2 separate regions of the Homo sapiens genome follow, and region 1 is linked to region 2. Evidence: fine-mapped QTL for protein levels in blood plasma. A gene starts in region 2. The other region holds a variant in brackets. All regions are shown on one strand. Distances are from middle to middle. Region 1 overlaps CEACAM18 (CEA cell adhesion molecule 18). Region 2 holds the start of SIGLEC6 (sialic acid binding Ig like lectin 6).

Evidence for each region. PIP is the posterior inclusion probability: the model's chance that the variant is causal. Protein levels are from antibody-based Olink assays in UK Biobank. Linkage for the fine-mapping came from a reference panel and not from the study's own genotypes, which makes the PIPs less certain.
Region 1: its variant is fine-mapped to the plasma level of the SIGLEC6 protein (UK Biobank, PIP above 0.99).

What each region holds. Positions count from the first base shown.
Region 1 is chr19:51,483,360-51,491,701 of GRCh38, reverse strand. It overlaps CEACAM18 (CEA cell adhesion molecule 18), which reads right to left. Exons shown (of 6, transcript NM_001405061.1): 5 at 6,580-6,715; 6 at 401-1,115. The coding sequence ends at 1,050. It overlaps SIGLEC12 (sialic acid binding Ig like lectin 12), which reads left to right. Exons shown (of 8, transcript NM_053003.4): 8 at 1-475. The coding sequence ends at 61. Among named protein-coding and RNA genes, the nearest start is that of CEACAM18, 9.0 kb to the right of the region's middle. RefSeq lists silencers at 2,800-2,980, 4,224-4,383. The variant G/A (reference allele first, on the strand shown) is at 4,101.
Region 2 is chr19:51,530,691-51,538,990 of GRCh38, reverse strand. SIGLEC6 (sialic acid binding Ig like lectin 6) reads left to right here and starts at 7,321. Exons shown (of 8, transcript NM_001245.7): 1 at 7,321-7,409; 2 at 7,472-7,831; 3 at 8,032-8,300. The coding sequence starts at 7,343.

The DNA.
Region 1 (8,342 bases), 47 kb after region 2:
GTACCCACAGGAACAGGAGGCCATCGGCTATGAGTACTCCGAGATCAACATCCCCAAGTGAGAAACTGCAGAGACTCAGGCCTGTTTGAGGGCTCACGACCCCTGCAGCAAAGAAGCCCGAGACTGATTCCTTTAGAATTAACAGCCCTCCATGCTGTGCAACAGGACATCAGAACTTATTCCTCTTGTCAAACTGAAAATGCGTGCCTGATGACCAAACTCTCCCTTTCTCCATCCAATCGGTCCACACTCCCCGCCCCCGGCCTCTGGTACCCACCATTCTCTTCTCTACTTCTCTGAGGTCGACTATTTTAGGTTCCAAATATAGTGAGATCGTAGAGTGTTTGTCTCTCTGTACCTGGCTTATTTCACTCAACATAATGTTCTCTAGGTTCATCCGTGTTGTTCCAAATAACAGAATAATGTATTGAATATTTCAAAATGGCTAAAAGAGAGGAGTTTAAATGTTGTCACCAAAAAAAAAAAAAAATTAAATATTTGAGCTGACGGATGTGCTAATCATGCTGACGATGGTTCCACGGTGCATCCAGGTGAGGGAGCCTCACTGGGGCTGCGTTCAGGTCGCTCCGGTACTCAGGGCAGGACTGAAATTTAATCCCTGCCTGATTCTAAGGTCTCTTCTCTCATTCGGCACTGAGTGGAACAACCACTGATTGGCACCCCTTGGCCATAAGTTTACAGCATCGCTGTTGATTCCATGGGTGAAGAAATCTGAGAAGCTGGAAGCGCCGGAGCTGAGGGAGGAGGCGCTTGGAATTAGAGCCCAGCTTTGCGCATGGCCCGCCCCGACCTGCAACCCATTGACCAGCTCTGATTGGCAGATGAAGCGCCCAATGGCCACGCTACCCACGACATCATCTTCAGGTCCCGGGTGGGGTCTGCAGACCTCCTACTGGAGCCTCCATCTCCAGGCTTCCGTGTGACTGGGCTGGGTCCCTCTCTTGCCAGTACCCTCCAAAGAGACCCTGGACCCTTTTCAGCCTCGCTGGCCCTATGGGGACCCCCAGCCCTTCTCCATCACCCTCTCCTCACCTGCTTGCCCTTCTGGTCTTGTCCTCAGGTCTGGGGTGGACACTCATGGAGCCCGATTTGTCCTATGGGGAGAAATCAGGGAAGAAGCCACATCTCAGGTCCCTAAGAAACATGGGAGAGTCCTGGATAGAGAGAGGTGAAGGGGCCCGACTTCCCACCAAGTCCAAGCCTAAGTCTTCCTCACATGGGACCCAATGGAGGAGATGGTCTGAGGGCTGCACCTCTGCACCGAGAGTCCTCAACATCTCCATACTTTTAAAGATTTCCGAGGGCACTGGAGGAAGATGCCACTGTGTGGGGAGAAAGAGGCCGGGTGAAGCTGAGGAAGGAGTGGGCACTGTTGGCCTAATTATGAGGGATCACAACAATGATGGAGGTAATAACAGTAATTTACTTCATACCAATTATATGCCAGGCACTATAACTTATGACAGGGTTATCTTTAACCCTCCCAACAGCCAAGCAAGACAGATACTTTAACCCATTTGCAGATGAAGAAATGAGGGTCCAGAGAGGTGATGTTACTTGCCCCAGGTCACACAGCCAGAACATAACAGAGGCCAATATTCCCAAACTGGCTTCTCTGATTCCAGATCCCTGCTCTCATATCGGAGGGGAGGCCCCAGACCATAGAGAACATGGCGCCTTTGAAAGGAATGGGACAGTGGCGTGGAGGTGGTTCTGCCAGGCCAGGGGGGTTCTTCCAGGTGGTGGAAGATGAGGTGATTCAGATACACTCTTTGAAATACCCTTGAACTTTCTTGAGTTTATCACAATCAGTTTAGAATTGCACATTGAATAATATGATGGCATTAATAATAATATCTGAGATTTTATGAAGTGCTTACTGTGTACCAACCCTTCTTCCAAGGTAATTACTACTAAGAGCTTACTTTATCCCCATAGGAGATATCCCTGTGAGGTTTGGACCAGTGTTAGTTCCATTTTACACATGGCAAGTAAAGCACAGTCAGGCCGATTGCCTGCTATCTCACTGTATGGTCGACATTGTAGGCTCCTTGGTGAAGGGACCATATAATAATCATAAATAGGCTCAATATCTAAATATTAAGATAATTGAAGATGTATCTTCTAAAATCTTTAGATAACATAGTGAAAACGCATACACGTATGCTGTGTGTCTCCTCAGCTCCCTCTTGCCCCACCATTTATTCTAGGAAATGCCACTCCTGTGCCTTTTGGGTGGTATCCAGATCCAATCATGATTAAAATATGAGTAACTCCAGGGTGATCTTTTGGGGAGGGAGAAGGGGAGCTGAAAGAGGGGGCTGGATCGTGGTAGCTGTGATATTACTGGGGGCAGGGAAAGCAGTTTGTTCATCTTTTGTTCATCAGAGGCCCAAGAATAAAGCCAGGAGCTTGGTGAAATGTGGGGGGACCGAGAAACTGAATGAGAGACAAATGAATGAGTCACTGAGGTTGACTTAATGTCAACCTAATCATCCAAAATTTCACTTTGGATGATGAGGTTGACATTAAGTCAACCTCAGTGACTCATTCATTTGTCCCTCATTCAGTCTCCATCAATGACTTTGAACACAAGGATAGAAACCCCTGGAAACTTTTCGTCTGAAGAAATTCGAGTGGAAGCAGGATCATTATGGACAGAAGCACTAAGGCCCATTATACTTTTAGGGATCACAAAAATGTTTCAATTTCTTCTAAAATCAGAAGGAAAAAAACTGAATACAACCCACCCTATATTTTATACATGTTTATATCAAGATAGTCGTAAAATATAATTTTTAATATTTTTCTAGAGGAGGGCCCACAAAAGCAAAAATGCACCCCTGGATGGAATCCATTCCGTAAAACAGAAATGGCCCTGCTCTTAGGGGAATGAGGAGGGATTCTGGAGCCCTGTCCACATGAGTTCCCTGCCCCACTCCAAACTCTGGCACCTTCTGCAGCCCTTGTGAAGAATGTGGTTCCAGGTCCAGGAGGGGCCTGCCCCCAGGGAGGAGCCCACCCTAAGGCAGGGGCCCACCCCTTCTCAGCTGAATTCTCTGAGACCTTTTGTCTTGAGACCTCTCTTGAAGACTAGCCAACAACCCTGCATTTCCAAGACCTCGCTGACCTCCCAGGCGAGGTCTTGTATTTAGATATTGAACCTATTTATGATTATTACATGGTCCCTTAGCAAAGGAGCCTACAACATTGACCATACAGTGAGATAGCAGGGAGTCAGCCTGTCTGTGCTTTACTTGCTATGTGTAAAATGGAACTAATACTGGTCCCAACCTCACAGGGATATCTCCTATGGGGATAAAGTAAGCTCTTACTAGTAAATACCTTGGAACAAGGGTTGGTACACAGTAAGCACATCATAAAATCTCAGAGATTGTTATTAATACCATCATATCATTCTGTTTCTGCCCTTGACCTGAGCCCCTCCCCACTATGTCATGGCCACTCTCTCCATCTGCTTTTGCAATCCCCTTTTCTCTGCTCTTCCCTGAATATGAGAATTCTGTTTCCACCTCGAGCTCTCTTCTCTTCCCATGCAGCATAGTTCCTGGGGTTGGGGTGAGGGACAGAGGAGGGACTAGTGGTTGTCTCTTTCTACTTTTTCTGGTTTTGTTTGGTTTTGTTTTTACTCTTTAAGAACATTCTACATAATTGGTTTACAGCAGTGCTGTCCGGTAGAACTTTTGGCAATGACGAAATGGTCTATATTGGCACCGTCCAATCTCATAGCCATGAGCTGGTGTGACTGAGGAGCTGGATTTTTTACTTATTTAATTTTAATTCATTTTAAACTTAGTCACGTATGACTAGTGGCTACCATATTGGTTAATTCATGTTACAGGCCTTTTCTTCACAGATTATTTACTTATTTATTTTTGAGATGGAGTCTCGCACTGTCGCCCAGGCTGGAGTGCCATGGTGTGATCTCGACTCACTGCAACCTGCACTTGAACTGCACTTGAATCTCCCAGGTTCAAGTGATTCTCCTGCCTCAGCCTCCCAAGTAACTGGGATTACAGGTGACTGCCATCACACTTGGCTAATTTTTTGTATTTTTA[G/A]TAGAGACGGGATTTCACTATGTTGGCCAGGCTGGTCTCGAACTCCCGACCTGATGATCCGCCCGCCTTGGCCTTCCAACATGCTGGGATTACAGGCTTCAGCCACTGTGCCTGGCCTATTTATTTATTTTTTATACAGGGTGTCTGTTGCCCAGGCTGGAGTGCAGTGGCACGATCTCGGCTCACTGAGCCTCTGCCTCTCGGGCTCAAGAGATCCTCCCACCTCAGCCTCCTGAGTAGCTGGAACTCCAGAAGCACTCCACCACTCCAGGCTAACTTTTGTATTTTTTGTAGAGATGAGGTTTCACCACGTTGCCCAGGCTGGTCTTGAACTCCTGGGCTCAAGTAATCTGCTTGCCTCAGCCTCCCAAAATGTTGGGATTACAGGCATGAGCTACCATGCCTGGCCATTTCTTCACAGTTTAAATTCAATTTAATATTAAATGAAACAGGTACTAAATCTTACTTAATGTTTAATCTTTCAATTAGATGAACTTTCAATATAATTTTGATCTCACAGTTTATATTTCAATTACATTTTCATTTAGTTTAAAATTTTAGATGAAAATTAGCTCAATAAGGCCAGGCGCGGTGGCTTATGCCTGTAACCCCAGCACTTTGGGATGCTGAGGCGGGCGGATCACGAGGTCAGGAGATCAAGACCATCCTGGCTAACACGGTGAAACCCCGTCTCTACTAAAAAAAAAAACAAAAAAATTAGCCAGGTGTGGTGGCGGGCGCCTGTAGTCCTGGCTACTTGGGAGGCTGAGGCAGGAGAATGGCATGAACCTGGGAGGCGGAGCTTGCAGTGAGCTGAGATCGCGCCACTGCACTCCAGCCTGGGCAACAGAGAGAGACTCCATATAAAAAAAAAAAAAGAAAGAAAAGAAAGAAAGAAAGAAAAAGAAAAAAGAAAATTAGCTCAATAAACAAAAGTTTTGTTCTGCAGGACACCTAGGCATATGTGAGAGTCCTTGAGGACTGAGCTGTCACTAGGCATGTTGATCTCAGGTGAAGGAGACTGGCCCCTAGAGATGAGGGCTCTCCTTCCTAGACCAGGGGGCTCAAGTAGTTCCATCGGCTGCTCCTACTACAGTCTTAGTAGGAAGGAGATGCGGTCCCTGACCTTGGAAAATCCCCTAAGAAACAGCTTCCTCCGGGCACAATGATGCAACCTGCTGACCCAGCTGCACCCTTGGTCTAGGATTGTTTTTAAGGCTCAGAGGCCTGCCTGTCACCCCAGAGCTCACAGAAAAATATAGGCATTGTGCTTCATCATAATCATCACCATCAGCACTGCATTTGCTACCGTCATCATTAGCACCACCATCACCAACATCATCACCATAATACTATTGTCACCATTATGGCCATCATCATCACCATTGTCATCATCACTACCAATGTCACCATCACTAGCAACACTACCATCATCTTTGTCATCATCATCATCACCACTATCACCACCACCACTATTACTATCATCACCATCATCACCATCACAATAATGCCATTTCCACTATTAATCTACATCATCATTGCCATTCCCACTATAATCACCACCATCACCATTGGTACCATTATCTCCATCATTAACGTCATCATCCTCCCAAGCATCACTGCACTTTCTAACATCTACTCCACTGACTCTCAACCAGGGCAAAGTTGCCTCCCATGTGATCTTCATAGTGTCTAGAGACATTTTTGGTTTTCTGAACTGGGGTGGTGGTGGTTGTTACCACTAGCATCTAATGGAAAAAGGCCAGTTATGCGGCTAAATGTCCCACAATGCACAGGACAGCCTTACTACCTCCTCTTCCCCATCAGAGAATTATGGTCCCAATGCTGATAGTGCTGAGGTTGAGAAACTCTGGTCTACTCTATGCTGAGAATGCTGCAAGTCCCCTTTTCCTCCAAGACGTGTCTCTAATCCCCACATCACCCTTCAGGCAGTTGTTGCTCCGTTCATTCTTCAGCTGGGCTGAGGATGAGCTATGAGGAGAAGTGACCTACCCAAGGTAACCTAGCCTACAGGTAGCAGAGCTGGGGTTTGAACCCAGACCTTAACCATCCCACTGCCCAATCTCTTCTCCCTGCATAGTTCACCGCTGATACCTGTTTCCCCAACTTCACTTGGTAGCAAAGGATGACTATGTACCAGGAATTGACATGCAGACCTCTCATTTTTTTACCTGTCCCTCTAGGTAAACCTTAATATCCCTTATAAACACAAAGAGAAGGGAAGTTGCTAGAAGAAACCCCACAGCTATTTAGAACCATGGCCGACTCTAAACCCTCTCTTGCTCCCATCAGCTTCAGGTCCTGGGGGCTGATCTGTCTGCCCCAGATGATCCCTGACAACCTAGTTCCTGGCTTATCCCTCCCCTTCTGGCTCTGCTTCCCCTCTGGAGGGAGGGCTGGCTCCTGAGTCCCAGCCCCCAGCCAACATCCCACCCTTGTCCCAGAGCAATGAGGGCACCTGATTGAGTAGTGGTTGATCAGAGCATGGATCAGGACTCCACAGATGTAAACGCCACCCAGCACTGTCAGCATGATGAGGAACATCACCATGGATCCTGAGATGGAGAAATCTCTGTGGACAACAGGTAAGATCCCTGAAGGAAGAGGACACCTGGGGGTCAGGACCACGATTGACCCATTCATGCATTCACTCATCTCTTCACCCACCCACATATCCATTCTTCAAAGATTTGTCAACATCTATTATCAGCAAAGCACTGTTCCAGGTACGAGGGATTCAGCAGCCAACAAAACAAACTCCCTGTACCCATGGGCCTGACATTCTAGCTGGGAAGTGGACAGTGGACAATTAAGCAAAGAGATGTCTCACACTGCAAGCAACCATAAGTGAATAGAGAAGAATAAACCCTCATAAGGGGAGAGACAGTGACTGGAAGGGGGGTGTGTGACACAGGGTCATTAACTCATTGCATAAATGTTCACTGAGCACCAACTATGTGCTACACACTGTGCCAAGCACTGAGGACAAATGGAAAACAGAAAGCTCGCCCAAGGTGGATCACCTGAGGTCAAGAGTTCAAGACCAGCCTGGGCAACATGGTGAAACCCCATCTCTACTCTATTTTGTAAAAATACAAAAATTAGCTGGGCACAGTGGCGTGTGCCTGTAATCCCAGCTACTCAAGAGGCTGAGGCAGGAGAATCACTTGAGTCCGGGAGGTGCAGGTTGCAGTGAGCAGAGATTGCACCACTGCATCCAGCCTGGGCAACAGAGCGAGACTCTGTTAAAAAAAAAAAAAAAGCTTCCCCAGCTTCTGCCCTCCTGAATCTTGTAGTCCAGGGGAAGAGAAAAATGTGAATCGATGACTTGGAGGGCTGCATGCACACATCGTGTCTGGTGCATAGTAGGTGCTTAGGAGGTAGTGTGGCTGAAGTAAAGTCTGGAGACCACATCCTGTAATGTCTTCTGTACTTTCTTGCACAGTTTCATTTTATTCTCACAGCACCCTTTCCCTGCAGGGATTCTTATCCTTTCATTACAGTTGAGGAAACTGAGTCTCGGAACGATGGAGCTGCTTGTCCCAGGTTCATGGAGATAGGCAGCAGCAGAATGGGGATTTGGACCAAGAACCTTGGGCTGTAGAGCCCCTGCATTTACCTGCTGCACTCCTCTGCAGTCTCCCTGAGCACATCAGTCTCTCTCCTTGATGCAGAAGATTGGACGCATGGTTGCTAAGAAGATGCTTTCCCCATTTACAAATTCACTCCCAAGCCAAGTTTCTGACGCCATGGCCATGCCAAATCTCTACTCCCCGTCCACCCATCCCGTCCCTGCGTCTTTCTAATTCCTCATCTTGAAGCAGCTGAAGGGAGCAGTTGAGGGTGTAGGCTATGCCTGCCTGGGCTTGAATGCCACCTCTTCCATGGGTTACAAAGCAATAGAGCCTTGAATAAGCACTCAAACTCCATGGGGCTCAGTTTCTCACCTGTCAAATGGAGGTGATGCCAATCGCATTCACTTACTCCAGAGAAATGGTGAGAGTCACACAGGTTAGAACAAAGGCGGGCACATAGTAAGTGCTCAGCCAATGTCTGCTACTCTTATCCCCCTGGGAGTCACCCTGACTCTGATCTGAGGACTCCAGAGGATTCACAGAGGAGGCAGCTTTGGACCCAGACCTCAGAGAACTGGGAGATTTCACCCAGAGGTTGAGAGCATGTCATGGCACAGTGGAGGTGGCACTCCTGAGGGTGGGCACT
Region 2 (8,300 bases):
AATTACTTATATATCAAATAAAGGTAAAACTAGCTCTCTTATTTTAGTAAGGATGAATGAATATTTATCTAGATACTACTGTGTTTAAAAATTGTTCAAATAAGGGTAGTGTAGTTCAAGACGACTAACTAGAAGCATTTCATGCCTGCCTCCTCCACTTAGAAGAACCAGAGTAATGTATAGACAGTCACAGTCGAATTACATTATCCAAGGGAAAATCCTGGAATCCACCAGAGAAGTGGCAGAGGACATCAAAAACAGGGAAGGAGAAGGAAAAGAGGCAGCCTCCCTGGCTGGGATTGGCTGGGAGCTGGGAGTGACTTCCCATGCACAAAGGACTGAGTTAGGGATTTCCAGTCATCCACATCTCCATGGCGGAATTCAGCAATCCTGGCCAAGGGAGAAGCACTCAACCCTATGAAACTAACATAGAGAGTCAGGACACCATTGGACAGAACTACTCCGGGAAGGGAACTCCTGCTGGGTTCCACACCTTTCTGACACTTAAGCATTTTCAAGCTTGTCCTCTGGAAATTGTATGCTGTTCAAGGACCCAGAGACACTGAAACTGGGGCATTACAGAAACTCAAGCTATTGCTGCTGGGACAGGAGATCGAACCAGGAGTGCTCCTGCAGGTGGGGCTAGAAAGTGAGCAAGGTTTGGTCAGCTGTGGCTGTGAAGCAAGCACTGCCAGGATCTGAGACAAGGATGCAAGAGGGGCACAAATTGCCATTGGAACTTGTTTGCAAGCCAGATGGGAGCTCCAGCAACCAGGGTGAGGGGGGGTGTCGAGCCCCTCCAGGACTGGAGTGTGAAAGGGACATATGTTCTTCCGCCACCTTCAACTGACCCAGGCTATGACCACTCAAGATGGCCCTACCCTCTTCAGTAATCCTCTGCCTGGGACCCGACGATTGCTCTGACCCTGCCCACAATGACGAGTGCCTGCTGTCAACATTGAGGACCTGAGCACAAACCCATCTAGCTCAGCTTCACCTCACCTCTCCCGCTCTGAGACAGAGCACATAGCCCAGGGTCCTGCGGATTGCTCGACCCAATTCACTACCTTGGGCACCTGAGCACTTCTTCTGGGGGCTTGAGGTTGGATCTAAACTTCTGGCTGCTACTACCTTGCCTGGCGCCTACCTGCAAGTGCCAACTGTGGGTCCAAAGGCTGTCTTGTCCAGCCCATTGCAGCCAGCACCAACATTAATGCACATCACTTGGGACTCATAGAATCATCTTGCCCATGCTATTGCTATTGTCAATGCCATGCTGGCTGCCCAGGGGCCTGAAAACCCACACAATTGCTTGATCCATTGGTGCTACTATGAGCATCCAAATGAGCAACCTGAAAGCCCAAGAATCAACCCACTGGTAACTGCCAACAGAGAAGCCAGCATATACCACCCTGGGGCAAAAAGATAGATGCTCAGCCCACTGATGCCAAAGCTGGGGACCTGAAGACTCTCCCGCTCAGCATCCCTGTCCCTAGCACAACTTTACCATATTCTCCACTAATAACCATGCTCCAACTAGCCAAAGAAATCACACATATCACTAATGCTGTTTACAGTCAAAGAAATATACAGAAAGTACACTACTGCACATACACAGAATCAAAGCCAAAGCACCCCACCAAACAAGCAACGTAGATACATTTTCAAGAAATGTCTTCTATTCGGGACTGGCTCATATCTTTTTATCTAACTAGATGTCAGATCTTGAAATCCGTATTCTCAAAGCAATTCTGCCACTTGATCGTATTCTCAAGGGCCCTGATAGGCTCCTTTATAAGGACCAATTCTGTTCCTAGAGCTTAACTAGAATTAATTGTTCACTGAAAAAAAAAGTTAATTAAGAAAGCATTTCTTTCCTAATCTCACTCAAATCTGCAGAATTATTTGTAATTAATAATACAAAGGCTGGCCAAAAGGAGACTTGTAAATAGCGTAAAGTGGTGTCTTATACTAAACGGTGGAATGTTTAGGCAGAGAAGCTCTTTGAAATTGTCAGATGGGCTGGGCTCACAAGCCTGATTCAAACAGGCTGTCAGTCTCCTCTCTCCCCTTAACACTGTGCAGCCCAAACCCCTGGGACCCTTGAACATCTGAGCAGTTTTGTGCTTTGAGCCACTTTTTGATAAAAAAAAAGGCTCCATTTTTCCACATTGTGATTTTCTTAAAGTAGTTCAATGTTTTATAGTCTCATAGTAGTAGTGTTGCTTTCTAAGCTATAACAGTTGATTTTATTCTTCTACTCTGAAAAATCTTGACTTGTTTGAGTGTATATTATATATAAAGGGAGCCTTAATGGATTGGTTTTCATAATTTAATATTTTTTGTATTTGCCGTTGTATAATTGTTTTTAACAGAAAGCATTAAAGAATTGAGAGTGGAATTCTTAGAACCAAAGTTATTCTTAATAAAAATCACCACATGCTTGGACCATGAAAAAAAAAAGAAATGTCCTCTATGAAAGTAAATTAAAAAATAGGAAGAAGCTACTGTTATACTAGATGCACAGATTTTAACATAAGGACACAGGAAACATGAAACAGCAAGGAAAGGAACACAAGAATTCTGCAGAAATAGATCTTAATCACAAAGAAATTTTTGAAATTCCAGACAAAGAATTCAAAATATTGATGTTAAAGAAGCTCAGTGAGATACAACAGAATTCTGAAAATCAATACTATGGAAACCAGAAAAACAATTCAGGGTATAAATGAGAAAATGATCAAAGAGATATATATTTTTTAAAATAACCAAATATAAATTCTGGAACTGAATAGTTAATTGAAGGAAATGCAAAACACATTTGAAAAGTTCAATAATAGACTAAATCTGGCAGAAGAATCTTGGAACTTGAAGACAGGTTTTTTGAAATAATCTAGTCAGACAAAAATAAAGGGAAAAGTACAAAAAATAATGAGCATAGCCTTAATAACATTTAGGACAACAAAAAGCAATGGAATTTATAAATTACTGGTATCTCTAAGGGTGAAAAAACAAAGAAATATTGGAAAACCTACTCAGCAAAATAATACATGAAAACATCCCAAGTCTAACAAAAGATTTAGGTATAGAGATACAGAAGGCCCAATGATCCCCGGGCAGATCCCCAATGCAAAAGGTCTTCTCCTTGGCACATTATAGTCAGACTGTGTGAAGTCAAAGTTAAAGAGCAAATTCTACAAATAGCAAGAGAAAAGCATCTAGCTACCTCTAAAGGAAATTCCATTTGACTAAGAGCAGATTTCTCAGTAGAAACCTTACACACCAGAAAAGAAGGAACTGATATATTCTAAGTGCTAAAAGAAAAAATAACTGCCACCACAGAACATGCAAAGAAACTATTCTTCATAAATAAAAGAGAAATAGATTCATCCCAAGACAAACAAATGCTGATGAAATTTATTACCACTAGACCAGCCTTGGAAAAAATACTCAAAGGAGTCCTAAACCTGGAAGCAAAAGGATGATTTTATCATCACGAAAACATATGAAAGTAAAAAATTCACTGGTAAAGCAATCATGCAAATGAGAACTAGAAAGGACTCAAATGGTACCACTACAGAAATCCACCAAATCACAAGGACAAACAATAAGATAAAAGGAAAGAAACAACGAATGTTTAAAACAAGAAAATGTTTAATAACCTGACAGAAAGAAAGCCTCACAAATCAATAATAACCATGTATGTAAATGGATTAAAGTATCCTCTTAAAAGATATAGAATGGCTGAATGGATTTTAAAAATGACTCAACAGTGTGCAGCTTAAAGAAACACACCTTAAGAAAAGACACATATAGACCAAAAGTAAAAGGATGGAGAAAGATATTCCACACAAATGGAAACCAATAGTAAGCAGCAGTAACTATACTTAGATAAAACAGACCTTAGGTCAAGAGCAGTAGAAAAAGACAAAGAAGGTCATTATATAATGATGAAGGGATCAACCCAGCAAGAGGATATAACAATTCTAAATATATATGCACCCAGCAATGGAGCAGCCATATCTATAAAGCAAATATTACTAGATCTAAAGAGAGAGATAGAATGCAATACAATAATGGTGGGAAGCTTCACCACCCTATTCTCAGTAAGACAGATCACTTAGACAGAAAATCAACAAACAAACATCACATTTAAACTACACTATAGACCAAATGGAACTAACAGACTTTTACAGAACTTCTACCCAACAACTGCAGAATACATATTCTTTTCATCAGTACATGAAACATTCTCCAGGATACACCATATATTCGGCTACGAAATAAGTCTCTATAAATTAAAAAAAAAATCAATATTTACTCAATGTATACTCAGACCACAATGGAACAAAACAACAAGTCAGCACCAAGAGGAACTCTGGAAACAAGACAAATGTATGGAAATTAAACAATATGCTCTTAATGACCTACCAGGTGAAAATCTATACAGGAAAAACTAAAAAACACTGATGAAAGAAATTGAAGATGACACAAACAAATGGAAAAACATCCCATACTCATGACTGGAAGAATTAAGATAGTTAAGAAGCCCACACTGGTCTATAGCAATCTAAAGATTTAATGTAATCCATATGAAAATACCAATGTCAGTCTTCACAGAATTGTAAAAAACAATTATAAAATTCATATGGATCCAAAAAGAACCTGAATAGCCAAAGCTATCCGGAGAAAAAAGAACAAAGCTGGTGGTATCACTTTACCTGACTTCAAAGTATATTACAAGGCTATAATAACCAAAACAGCATGATATTGGTATAGAAATAGATACATAGACCAATGGAATATAACCCAGAAATAAGGCCACATGTATACAGCCAATTGATTGTCAACAAAACTGACAAGAACTTATATTGAGGAAAGGACACCTTCTTCAATAAATGGTGCTGGGAAAATTGTATACCCACACACAAAAGAATGAAACTGGATTCTTCTCTCTCACCATATTAAAAAAAAACTCAAAATGAATCATACACTTAAATGTAAGACCCAAAACTATAAAAAAAAAAAACAGCTACAAGAAAACCTAGGGAAAACTCTTTTGAACATTGGTCAGAAGAGTCAGAAATTATGACTAAGTTCTGAAAAGCACAGGCAACAAAAACAAAAATAAACAAATGGGACTTAATAAACAAAAAGCTTCTGCCAGGAAAAGAAATAATTAGAGTGAAGAAACAACCTGTTGAATTGGAGAAAATATTCGCAAACTATTCTTCTGACAGGAGACTAATATCCAGACTATACAAGGAACTCAAACAACTCAACAGGAAAAAGCAAATAATCCAAGTAAAAAGTGGGCAAAGGACAGGAATAGACAGTTCTCAAAGAATACATAAGAACAGCCAATACGACAAAATGGTCAGCGTCACTAATCATCAGAGAAGTGCACATCTAAACCAAAATGAGATACCGTCTTACCCAGTCAGAATGACTATTACTAAAAAAACAAAAAATAACAGATTTTGGCAAGGATGAGGAGAAAGATAACTCTTCTGTACTGTTGGTGGGAATTTAAACTAGTACAGCCACTTTTGAAAACACTATGGACATTTCTCAGGAACTAAAAATAGAATTACTATTCGATCACTCAAGCAATCCCACTACTGGGTATCTACCCGAAGGGAAAGAAAGAAATACATCAAAGAGATACCTGCATTCACATGATTTTTGCTGCACTATTCACAATATCAGAGATATGGAACCAACCTAAGTGTCAATTAACAGATGAATGGATAAAGAAAATATAGTATACATGCTATTTGGCCATAAAAAAGAATGAAATCGTGTCATTTGCAGCAACATGGATGGGACTAGAATTCATTATCTAAATTGAAATAAGTCAGACACAAAAAGACAAATGTTGCATGTTCTCACTTACATGTGGGAGCTAAAAAAATATTATCACATGGAGGTGGACAGTAGAAAGATAGACAACAGAGACTGGAAAGGGTCAGATGGGGGAGGACAGAAGATGAAGAGAAGTGAGTGAAGTGCTACAAACATACAGTTAAAAGGAATAAATTCAGCGTTAGAGAGCAGAATAGTGTGATTTTAGTTAACAAGAATGTATTGCACTCACGTGACGGACACTCTAAATATCCTGACATAATCATTACGCATTATATACATGCAAAAAAATTTTACATCTACTCCTTAAGTTTGTAGAAATAAAAAAATTTACAAATATATGGTGGCAAATTCTAATACCTCATAGGTATTAGAGATTTGCCAGATGCATACTGCACAGAGGAAAATAGAAAACCATGTGAGCTAGACCTAAAAATTTTAATTTTGTCAGGATATTCTGCTCACGTTGTCCAGAAATATGTCTTTTGTGCCACATTTAACTGTGAGAAGCAGATTTTTCACAGGAAAGAAATTGCTAATCTCTATGATGAGGACCTAAAAAAAAATCTCTCCAGTCCACACTGCACTGAGTGGCAACATTAATTCAAAAGAAGTTTCTTCTGCACTGCAGTTCATAAAATATGTGTCCTTTTTGATTTACATGAAGATGTTGCATGGTTCTTATTTTGGAGATGTCATTGAAATTTTGTAAATCAGCGTACTAGCTGTCAAGGAAAAACCTCCATACTCATGTTTTAAAAAATATCTGGCATTCTACTGTGTCACTTGGCAAACTCACCAGTGTCCACAGCTCTAAAGCTAGATAGTGAGGGTGTGTGCTGAGGATGGGAAGCTATGGATGGGGATCATCTCAAGGGTAGGGACCAGGTCCCTGGCATCTCTTCTCCAGCCCGACCTACATACAGATGCTCACTATGTCTTTGGTGAATGAATGAATGAATGAATGAATGAGTGAATGAATGAGTGGCTATCACCCACACTGCACCTGGGACCCTTCTTCCTTTCACTGTCCCAGACACTCCCACAGACCCTACAGAATCCTATATCCTGCAGGACTGACTTTCTCATGGCGTGGGATGAGGCTGTGACTCTCTGGGGCCAGGAGTGACCAGCTCCCAGGTGTAAACAGTGGTGCACAGAAAAGCACCTCAGGTGGGCAGGGCCTTGGACACAGGTTTCGCATTCCTCAGATGCCCCGGGAGGCCCTGGTCCGGGCTCTGTTGCTCACAGGAAGCCCCGAGGTGGGAGGCGGGACACAGTCTCTTCTCCTCTGCTCTTCTTTGGGCAGGTCTCTGGGTCTCAAAGTTTCCGTCTGCTCTGTGCAGAGGGAGTGGAGCTCCGAGGGCTTGTGGCTTCGCAGTTCCTCTTCTGTGAACAGCCGAGATCACGCGCTCCTCCCCAGCCACCCGTTCCTCCCCGCAGTCCTTCCCCTCCACTCCCTTCCCCTTCTCTGCTCATGCAGGGAGCCCAGGAAGCCTCCGCCTCAGAGATGCTACCGCTGCTGCTGCCCCTGCTGTGGGCAGGTGAGTGGGCCAGGGGAGAGGTGCCGTGGGGCTGGGCCGAGCTGACCCTCATGTCTCCATAGGGGCCCTGGCTCAGGAGCGGAGATTCCAGCTGGAGGGGCCAGAGTCACTGACGGTGCAGGAGGGTCTGTGCGTCCTCGTACCCTGCAGATTGCCCACTACCCTTCCAGCCTCGTACTATGGTTATGGCTACTGGTTCCTGGAAGGGGCTGATGTTCCAGTGGCCACAAACGACCCAGACGAAGAAGTGCAGGAGGAGACCCGGGGCCGATTCCACCTCCTCTGGGATCCCAGAAGGAAGAACTGCTCCCTGAGCATCAGAGATGCCCGGAGGAGGGACAATGCTGCATACTTCTTTCGGTTGAAGTCCAAATGGATGAAATACGGTTATACATCTTCCAAGCTCTCTGTGCGTGTGATGGGTAAGGAACCAGCTCCAGGACTAGCCACAGGGGAAGGTCATGGGGGCCGTAGGGCAGGGCTGGGACGGGAGCCCCGTCTTGGGAGGCGGGTACAATTAAGCATGTTGGGCTCAGAGAAGGAGCTGGACCAGAGACTGGGCTTCCCCCTGGGTGAAACCTCAGACCTCCATCCTGATCCTGCGTCCCCATCTCCTCACCAGCCCTGACCCACAGGCCCAACATCTCCATCCCAGGGACCCTGGAGTCTGGCCATCCCAGCAATCTGACCTGCTCTGTGCCCTGGGTCTGTGAGCAGGGGACGCCCCCCATCTTCTCCTGGATGTCAGCTGCCCCCACCTCCCTGGGCCCCAGGACCACCCAGTCCTCGGTGCTCACAATCACCCCACGGCCCCAGGACCACAGCACCAACCTCACCTGTCAGGTGACGTTCCCTGGAGCCGGTGTGACCATGGAGAGAACCATCCAGCTC